2 separate regions of the Homo sapiens genome follow, and region 2 is linked to region 1. Evidence: fine-mapped expression QTL. Tissue or cell type: nasal epithelium. Region 1 holds a variant in brackets; the other region holds the start of a gene. All regions are shown on one strand. Distances are between the middles of the regions.

The links. PIP is the estimated chance that this variant, and not a neighbour inherited with it, causes the effect.
Region 2: PIP starts here. The variant in region 1 is fine-mapped to the expression of PIP in nasal epithelium (TOPMed, PIP 0.98). The same link has a PIP of 0.9 or more in lung.

The regions. Positions count from the first base shown.
Region 1 is chr7:143,037,943-143,046,048 of GRCh38, forward strand. LOC105375544 (a long non-coding RNA gene) reads right to left here and starts at 2,990. Exons shown (of 2, transcript XR_001745395.1): 1 at 1,450-2,990. The variant G/A (reference allele first, on the strand shown) is at 3,563.
Region 2 is chr7:143,128,039-143,136,144 of GRCh38, forward strand. It overlaps PIP (prolactin induced protein), which reads left to right and starts at 4,039. Exons shown (of 4, transcript NM_002652.3): 1 at 4,039-4,173; 2 at 7,156-7,261. The coding sequence starts at 4,079.

The DNA of each region.
Region 1 (8,106 bases):
CCGGCTAATTTTTTGTATTTTTAGTAGAGACGGGGTTTCACCGTGTTAGCCAAGATGGTCTCGATCTCCTGACCTTGTGATCCGCCCGCCTCGGCCTCCCAAAGTGCTGGGATTATAGGCGTGAGCCACCGCGCCCAGCCATGGAGCTAGTTTTCAAGCTTTCTTCTTAATGGTGACCTGAGCCTCTCAGTCCAACATGAGGACTCTCCACTCATGACTCTTTGGATGGAACTCCTCCACAAAGCTAACATTTTTGTCTGAATCAGTTCTCTCTAGATAACATCATGGGCCATTACAGTCCACACCAGATCTAGTACATAAACTTATCCTAGATTAATGATTTTACAAGTGAGTAGAAGTGTTTGCTGAATATCCTTAAGCTCAAGGCCATTCCATGTCTATGTTTGACTTTCCCACATAAGTATACTCGGACACAGGTAAGAGAAGTCATCATGGCCCAGAGAAAGAAAAGGACATTCTGGCAAACTAGTAGAACAGATAGGGTTATTACCTATCCACTATATAGGGTTGCATTAATAATGTATGTTATTAGAGATAGGATTATTACCCCAGTGGCAGAGACATTACCCACAAAACAGGAAATGAGAAGGAACAAACCTTACTGACCTGCCACAAAACTTCCTAACTGACCTTCACATCTACCCTCGCTTCCCTCTGTCTACTCTGTTCTCCCCATAGCAGCCTGCGTGATCCTTTAAAACACAGACTAGATCAGGTCTCTCCCCGGATTAAAACCTTTCTCTCTGCCATTTGGTTAAAGTCCTGAGACCTGTGAGGCTCTGCATGATTTCTAGAAATACCTTTCTCTAATGTCATCTTGTGTCACTCCTCTGCTCAGTGACACTGACATCCTTTGTGCTCCTGTAATGGCACGCTGCTCCATCTCTCAGAGTGCTCATTGTGATTCCCACCATGCTGTGCCTAGTTAGCACCAGATACCAGTTAATGATTACTCCTATAGATGCTTCCCATAACCTCACAGACATATCCATGTTCAGGTTCCCTGCCAGGGGCTTTCCAGATATTACAGTAAATGCTGCAGTGCGCTGCCCGGACTCCCATTCAGAACCAAGATGCTAATTACCCCCAAATTGCTCCCAATCAAAGAGAAACACCTTCCCCAAGATTATAGCCCTTCCTCTAAGGTAGCCTGCATCCAATGGCCTATGGATGCAGAAGTATAATGCCCAGGCCCCAAGTTTCTGTTCAGGACAACTCTGGGCACAATTCAGGACAACTCTGGAAAGCCGTCCTAGCTCAGAGCTCCCCGTAGGATTTAAGCCTCTGTTGTGACCTCATCACAGGTCTGTCCAAACATCTTCTCCCTCATCACTCCCAGATCTAAGACAACCACGTAGTTTCTTGCTCAAAACAACTCACTATTTTGTAAGTGTGTGTGTGTGTGTGTGTGTGTGTGTGTGTGTTTACCTGGTTTTATAGCGTATGGTAACATCGGTCTTCATCAAATATGCTCCATAGTGGGGAGACCATGTCCACTCTGTTTACTGCTGTATCTTCAGTACATTGTCTAAAAAATAACAGTTATTCAAAAACAATTCTTATTAAAGTTTGTTTTTTTAATTTACAGTGAGATTGAGTTCTTTTCATGTTTAAAAAATCATTTGCAGTTTTCTTTAATGAATGTACAGGTTTGTAAGAGAACATTTTGCATAAATCAAACAAATCTTTATTTCATGTTTCTGTTTTTATGTTTTGTTTCTATCTTGCATAAATATTTCATCCTTAGGCAGTTACACTTAACAGTCTTTTAGACTCCCGGGATCCGTGTTTTCCTTTGAAAAGCCTATGTTCATACTCCAAGGAAATTAAAAACAAACCAAAAAATCCCATTTTTTACTTTTTACATTTAAGTCTGTTTGAGCCATCGGGAATTTATTATTTTTTGGAAGCATAAGGTATAGATCCAGGGTTTTGGTTTTTCCAGATATTCTGTGAATGTAATACATATTTCTAGGACAAAGGGAAGGTGGTGACAAGGAAGGGAGAAGAGAGAGAGAGCCCCCAAAAAACAAACTTAGAGGCCTGCCATGGCAAAAAAAAAATACCTCCTCCTCTATCTGGGTTGGGACACAGAGGGCATCCATATTTGGATGTGGAGAAACAAGAGATTAGAATGACTATGATATTAATAAGGGCCAAAGAATATCAGCAATGGAAAGATAATGTTTTCCAACACTTCGTTTTACATATTGTAAGCCTGAAACTCAGAAATCGAGTGACTTGTTAAGGTCATGCTGCAGTTTACTAGCTGAGTTGACATGAGTGACCGGGAACTCCTAGACCACCCTTCTACAGGAGGCAGTCAGCTGTTGTCAGCAGGGAATGAAGCACCAGTAGGTTGAGTGGAGTGACCTTCAAGAATCCTGGCAACCCTGAGATTCTGAGACTCACAAATGTGCTTTTGAAGATCAGCAGTCTTATAATCAAAGACAGATGCTTTAAGGTGAATAAGTTACATACTGGAACACAGTAAAAGCTCAATAAATACCTCAGCAATGAGTGTGGCATGTCCTTATCAATAATGATAAGTAAATGTGCCTCTGGACATGATGAAGAGGATCCATGAGCGTAAGTGTGCAGTTTATGACAACGTCAGTGTCTGGGATGGTTGCTGGAGTGCCAGGGAGACACAGCCCCTTGGGACTGAGCAGTGGAGAAAGGGGGAAGGGGACCTCACAGCTGGGGATCCTGAAGCTTCAGACTCTCCTCCATCCTGTAACACTGGGATAGTGAGGCCAGACAGCAGGAAAGGGCTGGAGAAGAGCATTGCTAAACAAACTTAGCTTGCTCTTGTCAGCTTACTAACATCTACCATGCTCTTCTATACCCCAAGACGACCTGTACTAGTGTGTTACATAACATGTTTTATTTAATTCTGAAATTAACCTTATGAGGGAGGCATTACTATCCCCATAATATTGGGGATTTTTTATTGAATAAAATTCCAGATTTTTATCTGCGTTACATTTACTTAATGAATGCTTAGTCAACAACTACTATGTAAATGTTACATTTCAAACCCAGGTCGAACTCCAAAGCCCCCCACCACACACACACACACACACACACACACACAACTGAGGTGCTGGACCCAGTCCTCATCTGCCTCTTGTTGCTGTCTGACTGTACCCATTGTTAGTTTAAGCATCAGCGTTGTACAACCCAAAGGACTCCTGGCTTTCCCTTGTTCCCACAAGGAGCACCCTGCTGGAGTCTAAAGTTTCCCATTTGGCCCAGCTCATTTCTTAAAATCAGCAAGACCCAAAGGTTTCAAAACAGAGTGGGTGAACAGCACCATCATCCCTGGGAGCAAAGAACAGCAAGAGAATCATTCTCATTGGATTTCCCTGCCACCTCCATGCTATCTCCAGCCTGACATCAGTCATGGATACTGCTGCCCTGGGCTGTATAGGGAGAAACAGTAAGTCTCTTCATCACAGACTCAATGAAAGTTGCTGACAGATTCTAACTTGTGGAGTCACTTGCAAAGCAGGGCCAGGGTTGCTTGCCCCATTCCCAA[G/A]GGGCTTATGTCTCCGTGTCAAAATCTGGGTACCACAGTCAGGAAGCCGCCGAAGTAAATGACCTAATAAGAAAAGCTCGCCATGCTGGACTTATGAATTAAGATGCATTGGCTGGGTCTGGAGAATGAATGAGTTATAAGGATTCGGTTTCGGTTAGTCAAGATGAGTTTAGACTTGGCATTAAGATTAGTGAGAGGGTTGCATGCTTACTGCTTAGGGAGATAGATCCACTTCTGTGATTAGATGTCATTGCTGATGGCCAGGATACAGTTCTAGGAAATACCTGTGGTTCCAGAGAGACAGCTAACATGTGTCTTCTCAGGGCTTCATTTGTGTGCTCTCATTTCTGATTTTATTTACTACTTATGGATCTCTAAAGGTATTCATTCAGTTAACTATAATTAAAGTGTGCAGCCAGCACACTGCTGGACCCATACATAGATGCATCAACACACACACACACACACACACACACACGCACACACACAAACCCATCACCTTCACGTTAAAGAAGTGTGGTTGGCGGTTGGGTTAGAAGGGGAGATGATGAGAATGAAGTTTCCATGCCAATAACAACAGCGGAAACTGCTGTTATTGAACTCTTCCTATGTGGCAGCCATAATCCAATTTGATGCTCACGCTAGCTCTACTATTTTTTATCTTACATCTGGGGAAAATTCCACTCCAAGAGGATTAGTATCAGCCCAAGGTCATACAACTGGCAATTCACAGGGCCAGGATATAAACCTAGACGGTCCAAGGTCTGTGCCGTCAGCCCCCATACAAGAGTGAGTCATGTCAGGGAAGGGTGGTCCACTAGGATAGTCACAGCATTTTAAGAAGCAGAGCTAGAAGTCCAGTGCAATCCACATACCACACACATCTTTCAGGGACTGTCAGAGCAGCAGCATCCAATGGGTCTTGCCTGGATTCCAGAGCTTGAATCTAAATATCTTGATTCCCTTTCTGCCTTCAGCCATTGTAAACATGTAGCAGATGGTCACCCCAAAGGGATCTTATTGTCTCTCTGTTCTGGCTCCCCTTGCTTCCTGAATTGAATGGCTTTGCTGCTGCTGCTGAAAGCTGGAAATATGTGGCTGAGTGAGAGTTCTCAGCAGAGGGGCATCTAGAAAGCCTCACAGGGGTGCTTTAGACTGGCTTCTGTGCTCAGCCTCTGGCCATGCTCAGTCCCGTGTCCTGCCTGCCTTTCCTCCCTCCTTCTGCTCACAATTTCTGCTTTTCTTTGTCACTTCTGCTGCTTCTCTTGGGTTACCTTTTATTCCTTCTAGCTTTCTGTCTGCATTCCTGGGCCTCCTGTGTCTCTCTGTCTCTCACTTTCTCTCCATTACTGCTTTTCTAACACCTCGCCTCTCTGGTTTTGTGTTTCTCGCATCCACACTGGCTCTCTCCTGTGAACCTTGGCCTTTCTTTATCTCTGACCACAAAGGTACATAGGGCTTAACACAGAAACGATGAAAGGAAACTTAAGGGATTAGAATGTAACACTAACAACATCTGCTACAGCAAGGTCACGCTGAAGTCACCAATAACTCAAATCTTTCAACGGCTTTTAACAACTATGTTTGTTTCTCACTCATGCCATGCGCCCATCACTAGCCAGGAAGTAGACTCTGCTCATTATTATACTGTAGGGACTGGAGCAGTAGAAAGCTCCCTTTAAACACATTCTTCCATGATCTCAGATGTGGAGAAAAAGGGAATGTGACTCAAATGCCAACCCTTAAAGCTCTTGCTATGAAGTGACTCTCATTACTTCTACCCATATCTCACTGGCTGAAGAAAATCACTCGACCACTCCTGAATTAATGGAGCAAAAATATGTGATATTCCCACTGGGAGGGTCACCTCCAGGAAGGACAACAAATATGAGTGAACAATTATTTGTCCATTATAAACGTCTGGGTTTCTGTTTGTTTGTTTGTTTTACTTATTCTCTTCCTCATGAATTTTGGGTTTAGCTTATCAAATAATGTAAGTAATTTCAGTTTCACAGTTTCTGTCACTGCTGAGCTACAGAATATCTGAAACAGTCATAGCATTACTATTCTTGGCATGATATAGAGGGAAAGGACAGTGTGTGAAGTGGGTGAAATCAGAGCTTCGGTCTCAGGCCCCAACATGTGATGACTGAGAAACACTGACATTTACTTAAGCTCTGTGAGATTCTACATTGTTATCTAAAAACTGAATATAATAATTCTCCCTCACAGGTTAACTCCAGAATAAATCTGTAGTCATTACATGTGATTTTTTTCTCCTATGTCTCTCATATTCTTCTCATTCAATCAGCAAGATATCTTTTATATAATCAATATAAATCAATAAGCAATGTAATGATATACAAGTTTGGATTATGTTTAGGTTGGTGAGACAAAATGACATAAAAATTAAGAGCAGAGTCTTTGGGATCAGATCTGATTCAAATTCAAACTCTACCATGCAGTAGCTGGTGTTAGTAGCTACTATCAATGTTTTTGTTTGTTTGTTTTGTTTCTTTTCTTTTGAGACAGGGTCTACCTCTGTCACACAGGCTGGAGTGCAGTGGTGCAATCATAGCTCACTGCAGAACTCCCAGGCCCAAGTGATCCTCCCACTTCAGCCTCCTGAATAGCTGGGGCTACAAGCACGCACCACCACACCCATCTAATTTTTGTATTTTTTGTAGAAATGGAGTCTCACTATGTTGCCCAGGCTGGTCTCGAACTCCTGGGCTCAAGCAATCCTCCTGCTTCAGCCTCCCAAAGTGGTGGGATTACAGTCATGAGCCACCATGCAGCCACTATTGTCAATATGATTAAGGATTGAAAGCCATTCCAGCCAGGTGCAGGAGACATCCCTATTTGTCATTTGTCTACCATTGCAGCCCATATCATTCACGATTTATTTGCCTTGCTCCACCCCTTCCTTACTCTGAAAAATTAGAATATTAATAGAAAACAGGTTTTAGGATCAGTTTTTATATCACACAAACATTTACTAATGCTTTGAGCTCAGATATGTAGGAATATTTATGTAAAGAAAAACATAAGTTGTATAACCCTTACCAAATTTTCCAAGAGTCATGGATTCTTTTACCAAGAAAAACCTCACAGATAAAGAAACTTTTTAAAAAGTCTTGCTTTTTTTGTTAAAATAAATTTTTCTCTAATTTTTGAGAGCTAAATGGTTAACTGAAAAATAAGCATTCATTAACAGAATGTGTTACACAAAAATTTATCACACATTTTAAGAGACGTATTACGATATATGCAAAAATCAAGACTGTGCTGTGTGGTTTTTAAGCTTAGTGACAAGTAGATCAAATAAGGTCTATGAATCGTATTTGTGTTTGACATCTAAGCAAACTGTCTGGGATCAGTTGTGGGAGTAAAGCAAGATGTTTTTGAGGCCTCGCGATGTGCATGTGTGATAGACAGAGTAATATTTTGTTGTTTTTATGTTTCAGAGATGCTTGCAGCTTGGGTGATATAAAACTCCCAGTGGGGCAATGTGTCTGCCTTCCTCATAAATGGACAAAAAGGAAGAAATACAGTGTAGTATCAGAACAAGCTTGACTTCAGATACTGCAGCCTCCTGTTCTCTGAGAAGGGGAGTGAAAAGAGAGTGGGGTGAGTTAGTGTCTTTCTTTCCATTCAGGATCAGATATCTGACAGAGTAGTCTAAGCCTTAGAAAAAGAAAATTTTGTTGACTTATCCATGACAGGTTTTTTAAAGGGCCACAAATTTTTTGGCACTCCTCCCATTAAGATATGGCTCTGGCTGGGTGCGGTGGCTCACACCTGTAATCCCAGCACTTTGGGAGGCTGAGGCAGGCGGATCACGAGGTCAGGAGATCGACACCATCCCGGCCAACATGGTAAAACCCTGTTTCTACTAAAAATACAAAAATTACCTGGGTATGTTGGTGCATGCCTGTAATCCCAGATATTCAGGAGGCTGAGGCAGGAGAATCACTTGAACCTGGGAGGCGGAGGTTGCAGTGAGCTGAGATCACACCACTGCATTCCAGCCTGGTGACAGAGTGAGACTCTGTCTCAAAAAAAAAAAAAAAAAAAAGATATGGCTCTATGCCCCTGCCTCTTGAATCTTGTGTTGCTTGGACTCATAAAAGTATGGCAAAAGTGACCATATGTGACATCTGTGACAATCTTATTTGACAAGTAGATCAAATAAAGCCTATGATTTGTATTTGTTTTAGACATCTAAGCAAACTGTCTGGGATCAGTTGGGAGGATAAAGCAAGACATTTTGGCACAAGTACTGTGTATCATCTTTGTGCATAAAATGGGTGCCCCTTTCCATCAGGTAGATGCAGCTCCTTCAGCCCCCATGTGCCCCTTCAGTCTCTCCATCACCACCTTTGTACAGTCTACAAGCCACACAATTTTACTCAGGGGCCCTAATTCAGCTCCTATCTCCATCCACCACCAGGCAAGTGCCCTCTTGCTAGACTCTTCAATTCTCCAGGTGACCCACATCAATTCTCAAGAAAACTATTTTCTGTCTGATTCCAGCCTACAGG
Region 2 (8,106 bases), 90 kb after region 1:
GCCAGGCTTCCTCTTTTCCCCTCCCATAACCTGTAGCACCACTGTAACCTGATTTACTACCATAACCTGGTTTTGGCCATGCTCCAAGACCTCATTCTTTTGTAACCTCAAGATGGTACATGAGCTTCTGTACTCCCACTGAGGAGTTGGAGGTCATCATTCTCTCCCATGCACGTTAATAAACTTGTATGCCATTTCTCCTATTAATCTACTTTTTGTCAGTTTATTTCTCAGTGAAACTTCAGAAGGCAGAAAAAAAGTTTTCCCTTGGCCCCTACATCACCAGGGTGACCTTAGAAATGACACTAAAGGCCAGGCATTGTGGCTCACGCCTGTAATCCCAGCCCTTTGGGAGGCCAAGGGGGGGTGGATCACCTGAGGTCAGGAGTTTGAGACCAGCCTGGACAACATGGTGAAACCCCGTCTCTACTAAAAATAAAAATAATTAGCTGGGTGTGGTGGCAGGCACCTGTAATCCCAGTTACTCAGGAGGCTGAGACAGGAGAATCACTTGAACTTAAGAGGTGGAGGTTGCGGTGAGCCGAGATTGCGCCACTGCACTCCAGCCTGAGTGACAAGAGTGCAACTCCACCAAAAAAAAAAAAAAAAAAAAAGGAAGAAAGAAAGAAATGACACTAAAGATGACAGAGTTTCTAAGAAAAGAGTCACACTCCAGCTTCTCTCACCTCTGAGAGATTTTGCTTGGATATAACCTCCTCTAAGAAACAACTCATTACATCTTACATCTTCAGTATGCATTAGATGCCCTTCTACAAGTCTTGTGCCAATTATGCTTTTATTAAGTAAGAGGAAATATAGAGTAGTCACTCTAAGTGCCAACTCCGGATTCACTTCTATCTGGGTTCCAATGGTTTGGCTTAGTCATATGGCCAAGCCAAACTTCAATACCTTTGTTATTTGTTGGCTCTGTGACTTGAACAACTTATTAAAACCTCTGTGAGTTTCCTTTTCTCAACTTTAAACTGTTGCTACATCAATAAATAGACTAGACAAGTGTTTAAGGACATAAACTCTGGTATCAGACTACTTGATTTTGAACCCCTAACTCTGCCAGTTACTAACTTTGCAACTTGTTCTCGCCAGTAGGCAGTGCAGTGGTTAAAGGGTCATGTTCCAGGGCCAGACTGCCAGCGTGGAAATTCTGGCCCCACCCAAAGGTGTATTCGCCATTAAGTTAATGGCATGAAGCCTCAGGGCTTCCTACTTATGGGTGCCTCCTCCAAGATCCTGTACCTGTAGTTTACATTTGTAAGTTTGGATTCTATTTCAAAAAGAGGTTCTCAGATACTGTAAATCAAAACTCAGATTCCACAAAACCTGCTTGCAAAGTTGACTCTGCCATATACTGGCTATATGGTCTGGGTTAGATATTTATCTCCTGGGTCTCTGTTTCTCCTCTTGTAAAATGGAATAAAAATGGCAACCACCTTCACAGGGTTGTAATAAAGATTGAGCTAATATATGTTAAAATGTTTAGAGCAGTGTAATGCACACAGCATATGCTTCATGTGTGTTGGTGTCTATAACTCCCTCTCTGTCCACTCCTTATCTTCTTCTCATGAGCCCTGTCAGGACTAAGATTATCTTTCTCTTTGTAAACTTAGCCTGTGGCAAGCCTCACCTATATTCTAACTCTTTCCCTATGGGACTATACACATTCTCTTCTGTAAGCTTCCTGAGTTGTTTACAATCTGATTTTATCAACCTTTATCTGATTTCTTAAACCTAGACTTGTTCATTCTTTATGGCATAATAATTATGGTTTCTTTTTCTCCCTAATCTTCTTCCTCAAGGGACCTCAAGCTTTTCTCTTAAGACTTTCAACTGATCCAATGAGTCTGACCCATATTATGGAGGTAATCTGTTTTACTCAAATTTTACTGATTTAAATGTTAATCACATTTAAAACAAACAAACAAACAACAACTTCACAGCAACTTCTAAACTGTTGTTTTTCCAAAAAGTGGGCACCATGCCTAGCTAAGCTAACAAATAAAAGTAACCATCACAGCAGTCATGGCCTGAATAAGACTTGTCCTAGGCCAGGCACAGTGGCTCACACCTGTAATCCCAGCAATTTGGGAGGCCGAGGCAGGTGGATCACTTGAGGTCAGGAATGTAAGATCAGCTTGGCCAACATGGTGAAACCCCATCTCTACCAAAAATACAAAAATTAGCCGGGTATGGTGGCACCTGCCTATAATCCCCACTACTCGGGTGGCTGAGGCATGAGAATTTCCTGAACCCGGGAGGTGGAGGCTGCAGTGAGCTGAGATCATGCCACTGCACTCCAGCCTGGATGAGTGAGATTCTGTCTCAAAAAAAAAAGATTGTCCTGTACATTGTAGGTATTGCAGTTTCCTGCTAGCTCACAGAAGAACAGCCTCATTACCTTCAATAGATGCTCTTAACCCATCGTCATCTGCCTTCCTCTGGACACTGCCTTTTGGGAGTGCTGGAGTTGCATCCTCAAGGACAGGGCTATGCCTTCAAAGAGCCAAGCAAAGAACTTTTCCTGCATTTTCCCACACAGACACTTCCTAGATTCTTCTGCCTTATGCCTGCCTTGGTCAGTGTAGCTAGGATGTGCTTCAAATGGAAATTATGCAAGTGAGAAGGACCAGGTGTAAAGACAATTTAATTGTGGGAAAAGGCTTACAAAGGAAGGTCATTGTGACCCTCACAAGCAGTGTTCTTGAGTGGATAGGACATAAACAGGGAAGAAAGCATGTGATCATGAGAACAGCTGAAGTTCTGAGTGAGCAATGACATGAATGGTGTCCAATTCAAAGAAAAGAGAAGGTAGATCCAGGAGCTGAATAAACAGACAGAGCAATTTTGAGAGATACATCCAGAAAGCAGAAGCACACACTTACACTTTAGCTCTGAATCCTGGCTAAAGCAACATACAGAGGCGGTAACTCCTAGAACTCTGATTTTCACTCTGTTGCCAGAGAGGCTCTTCCTGGGCAGCTGTGTGCCATGCAAATGATAGAAACAAATCCCATAGTATTGTAAGTCATAGGTTAAGGAGCAGATTTAATTTCATAAGGAGAAATAACACAATGCCAGTGTCAGCAAGAGCAAGTCTCCCCATCATCCCAAGGAGAGGAATTCTACAACCTGGGTATCTACTGGACATAATGTGGGCTCCATTCTCACAGAAGGAATCCTTTCCACTGTGGTTCTTCCTGTGTGGCTTACGCATGAGACAAGTGTAAGAAAGTGGCCATGTCAATAAGAAAATAAGCCAGCTCTTTGGTGCCAAGAAGTCTGATTTGGGGGTGCCAGCTATTTATAGGAATTGTCTAGAATTAAAATATCACCCTGCCTTGGGGATTGTGGGGCAGCTGGGGATCTTGGACATCTGCAGTATATTGCAACCACACCTGAAATTAAGAAGGACTCAATGACAATAAACATCTTTACATCACCCAGTGTCTTGAACTCACTTCCCCATCATGTAGAGCAGCTCAGGTCTTCTCTAGCTCTTCCACCTCATGATGGGTAGTGACTGCTAGGGAAGTCCTGATCATCCTAGCCCTCCAAGAAATGTTTTGAATAGCATTGCATCTTGAACTCACTATAATTTGATCAAGCAAAGATGTTCTATGTCTCTGGTCTGAAACCTGCCACCACAGCTGTGTTCTCTGCTTTCAGAGACCAGGGGAGCAGTGACTGAAGCTAAGACTACACATAGCACTTCAGACAGGCAAATTAGGAGGGAAAAGAAAACTGAATCTGTAAACTCGGGAAAAACTGGTGTATCTTTTGAGGTCCCAGCCATTTTGAGAAACTCTGATGCTGAAAAAATAAGGAAGAACAATCTGACTCCTCTCTCAAACGCTGACATTCTAGCTGAGTGTTGATTTTTTCTTAGAAAAACAAACTTTGGGTCAACAAGGAAAGATCACGAGTGGGGAGGGTGAATGGGTGATTCACCTCATGGATCTCCCTGGCAGCTCTTGCACTTCCTTGATCAATCTGTATATAAGAAATGTGCTGGGCACCTGGGACACCACTTCTCTGGGACACATTGCCTTCTGTTTTCTCCAGCATGCGCTTGCTCCAGCTCCTGTTCAGGGCCAGCCCTGCCACCCTGCTCCTGGTTCTCTGCCTGCAGTTGGGGGCCAACAAAGCTCAGGACAACACGTGAGCCATGCCCTTCTCCTCCCCACAAAAAAAATTGCAGGGAGGGCTCCTCTCCCAGTCTGGAAATTACATATCTCTTTCTGAGAATTTCTTTCAACTTCCCAGAACTCTAGTCCCAGGAGCTCCCATGGATCTCCTGCCAGGTTCCACTTCTTGTCCTCTTAGGAAGCCCCACCAACTCCTCTCACATTTTTGCTGGGTGTTTCTGCATTGCCAGTGGAAATAAAGCTCCAAATGTACCTACAGGCTGTAATTAGTAGTTAGTCTTCATCTAACATGCTGATCCACATCTTGTTCATAATTTATACCTTTGTTCAGATTTCTGCTCAGTAAACTTTACCTTCTCACACCTTGCCTCCTAGAAGAGAAGCATAACAGGTCTGTGAATTCCAATGGCAGCTTAGGGCAGCTTTGGCAGGACTGGCTAAAGGACCAGAGGCCCTGGCCACTGCCCTGTGGTCTGAGATTGAGCTAGACTGGCAGCTTAGACATTCTTCCTAACCTGAAGTCTGAAGATGAATATGATGACCTCTTGCTCTCACGTATACTGGGACCTGAGAGCACAGGTTCAGAAGTCAACTTATTGAGAACACATGTGTGAAGGAAGCAGAAAAATTGGAGCAAGTAAAATAAAGTAGAAAATGGAGCCAAGGGTCTGGGAGAAAGCAGCGATACCCAATCTAGGGAGTTTTCTCTATAGCAGTAGGGTTTATAATGCTGGGTTTCTGGGTTGTGATCTTGGAGGTACTCTCTATGGCATGGTCAGATATCCTGTCCTGGAGGAAACTGTTCAGGGTTTTGACAAGCTAATGTAATGGAGGCAAGTGTCCCAAGAAACCCTGCATGGGGACAGGTTCAGATCCCACCCCATTCCCGCCAGATGACAGTCCACTTAGCCCTGAAGGGCAGCAAGGTATTCAAATAAGCTATGCTAATTAGGTTATCAACCATCCATCCTGATTTGCCCAGAACTTTCCTGGTTGTAGCACTGCAACTCTGCCCTCCCCCGCCACCTCCACAACCCATTCTGGAAAAGACCTCAGTCCTGGGTAAACTGAGATGGTTAGTCACTCGAACTAAGCTGGTCATCCTATCAATCTGAAACTCATATACAAATGGGAGAGATTTTGAAGTTGCTTAGGTATTTATACCCTTTTCCTGTGCACTGGGCACTACAGCAGTTGGCACCAAAAAATAGAATCTCTCTAAGATGCTTTGCCCCAAGAAAATGGGGCTGTGAGACACTGTGGGCTAAGAATCTCAATTCCCTTCTGTCCCACACAATAACAAAGGTCCGTAGCCGGGAGTTTCTAGGGACGAGAAAATAACTCTCCTGGCCCCGAACCCAGTCCTCATTGACTGAAGAAGAACATTTGACCATTTTATTTGTCTCCATTTCCTTTCCTTTTCAGATTGCAGTGTATGGTCTAAATGTAGAGTAGTATCTAAAGTTCCCAAACATGGCCATATGTCCAAATTTCCTAAGGAGCTAAATAAATACAAATTCCTAAACCCTACCTGGGGACCACAGAAGGAGGATCTTCAAAGATGCTCCTACAAATACCTCCAGTGCATTGAGATGTTTGCTGGGTTTTTAAAATTTTTTATTATTTTATTTTATTTTTCCATAAGTTACTGGGGTACAAGTGGTATTTGGTTACATGAGTAAGTTCTTTAGTGGTGATGAGATTTTGGTGCACCCATCACCCGAGCAGTATACACTGCACCATATTTGTAGTCTTTTAGCCCTCACCCCTCTCCCACTCTTCCCCGCAAGTCCCCAAAGTCCATTGTATCATTCTTATGCTTTTGAGTCCTCAAAGCTTAGCTCCCACATATCAGTGAGAACATACGATGTTTGGTTTTCCATTACTGAGTTACTTCACTTAGAATAATAGTCTCCAATCTCATACAGGTCACTGCAAATGCTGTTAATTCATTCCTTATTATGGCTGAGTAGTAGTATTCCATCATATATATATATATATATATATATATATATATATATATATATATATATATACCACAGTTTCTTTATCCACTCGTTGATTGATGGGCATTTGGGTTGGTTCCACAGTTTTATAATTGTGAATTGTGCTGCTATAAACATGTGTGTGCAAGTATCTTTTTTGAATAATGACTTCTTTTCCTCTGGGTAGATACCCAGTAGTGGGATTGCTGGATCAAATGGTGGTTCTATTTTTAGTTCTTTAAGGAATCTCCACACTGTTTTACATAGTGGTTGTAGCAGTTTACATTCCCGTCAGCAGTATAGAAGTGTCCCCTGATCACTGCATCCACGCCAACATCTACTGTTTTATGATTTTTTGATTACGGCCATTCTTGCAGGAGTAAGGTGGTATCGCATTGTGGTTTTGATTTGCATTTCCCTGATCAAGAGGTTTGCTGGTTTAATGTGATTCTGTTGCTAGAAAATTTTCTCCTAATAATGACTTGAGCCCTCCTACTCAGTAGACAACCACCAGAGCCTGTAGGATGTTATCAGGAAGTGGCATGTGGTATTGTACATTTTTTCTTTTTAAAAACTTGTTTTTGGTCAATGGAAGGGAAGAAGATGCTCGTTCATTGATGGGCATTTGGGTTGGTTCCATGATTTTGCAATTGTGAATTGTGCTACTATAAACATGCATGTGCAAGTATCTTTTCTAAATAATGACTTCTTTTCCTCTGGGTAGATACCCAGTAGTGGGATTGCTGGATCAAATGGTAGTTCTACTTTTAGTTCTTTAAGGAATCTTAAAGTGTCCTAGTTGTTTTATTAAACAAAATTAAATCTGTGTGAAGTTACCAATCCAATCAACACATGAAAATTCCAGGGGATTCCAATGCTGAACAATTGATCCAAGCCCCATAATTTCCCTCCCTTGCCCATCCTGTGCCCCTTGCCCTGTTCATGGCTCCCCCCTCACTCAAAGATTGGTCTCTGATCCTGGTGTTCTGATTCTCTCTTCCCACAATCAGTCGGAAGATCATAATAAAGAATTTTGACATTCCCAAGTCAGTACGTCCAAATGACGAAGTCACTGCAGTGCTTGCAGTTCAAACAGAATTGAAAGAATGCATGGTGGTAAGTAGAGGACTGGGGGCGTGACTTCAAAAGATAATTCAACTCCTTGATTATAAACATAATTTAATCTCTCACTTTAATAATGTACAGTGTACTTAATGAAACATTCTCACTTATGTTATGCTACTTGAGACTCAGAACAACTGTGGGAGCTTGGGACAGATGACTTCTCATTTTCCAGATGAAGAAGTTCGAATCCAGAGAAGTCTAGGATAAATAAGAAGGAAAGGAAGAAGGAATAGGAAGTGAGAAAGAGGGAAAAAGAAAAAAGTGTAAGAGCTAGTAGAGAAGCAGTTAGAGTCCTTCCAAGGTCCTGAGCATGTTTAGTTTAGGATGGAGGGAGGGGAGTTCTCAGAAGAGAAAGCAGCAACTCCACACCATAGGTTGAGGTGGGTGGGCAGAAGAGGACATGCAGGATATGACTCCTCCTCTCCAGTAAGCACTGAGCGACTCTACTGTCCTCTTGCCTTCTTCTGCTCCTTTGCTCTGGGTCACCAGAAGTGGACTCTTGTTCCAGCCTCCCCACCCTGACAAGGAGCTCGTAATCATCTCCTCCTTTTCCCCACGTTCAGAAGTCCAATCTCTGAACAAGGTCAGAGGTTTTCAAATGGTAATGTGTCTAAAACTCACTCGGGGATCTTGTTAAAATTCAGAGTTTCATTCAGCAGGTCTGGGGAGAGATTAGAACTTCTGGATTTTAACAGACGCCCAAGGTACACCAAGGCTGTGCCCAAAGGATCACATTTTTGAGCAGCTTGGGATTAGAGCATTATCCCTCCTGTCTAGCTGCCAAGGGCCAGAAGTCAAATAGACTTATGCAGTTATTAATCCACAGTGACTCTTCC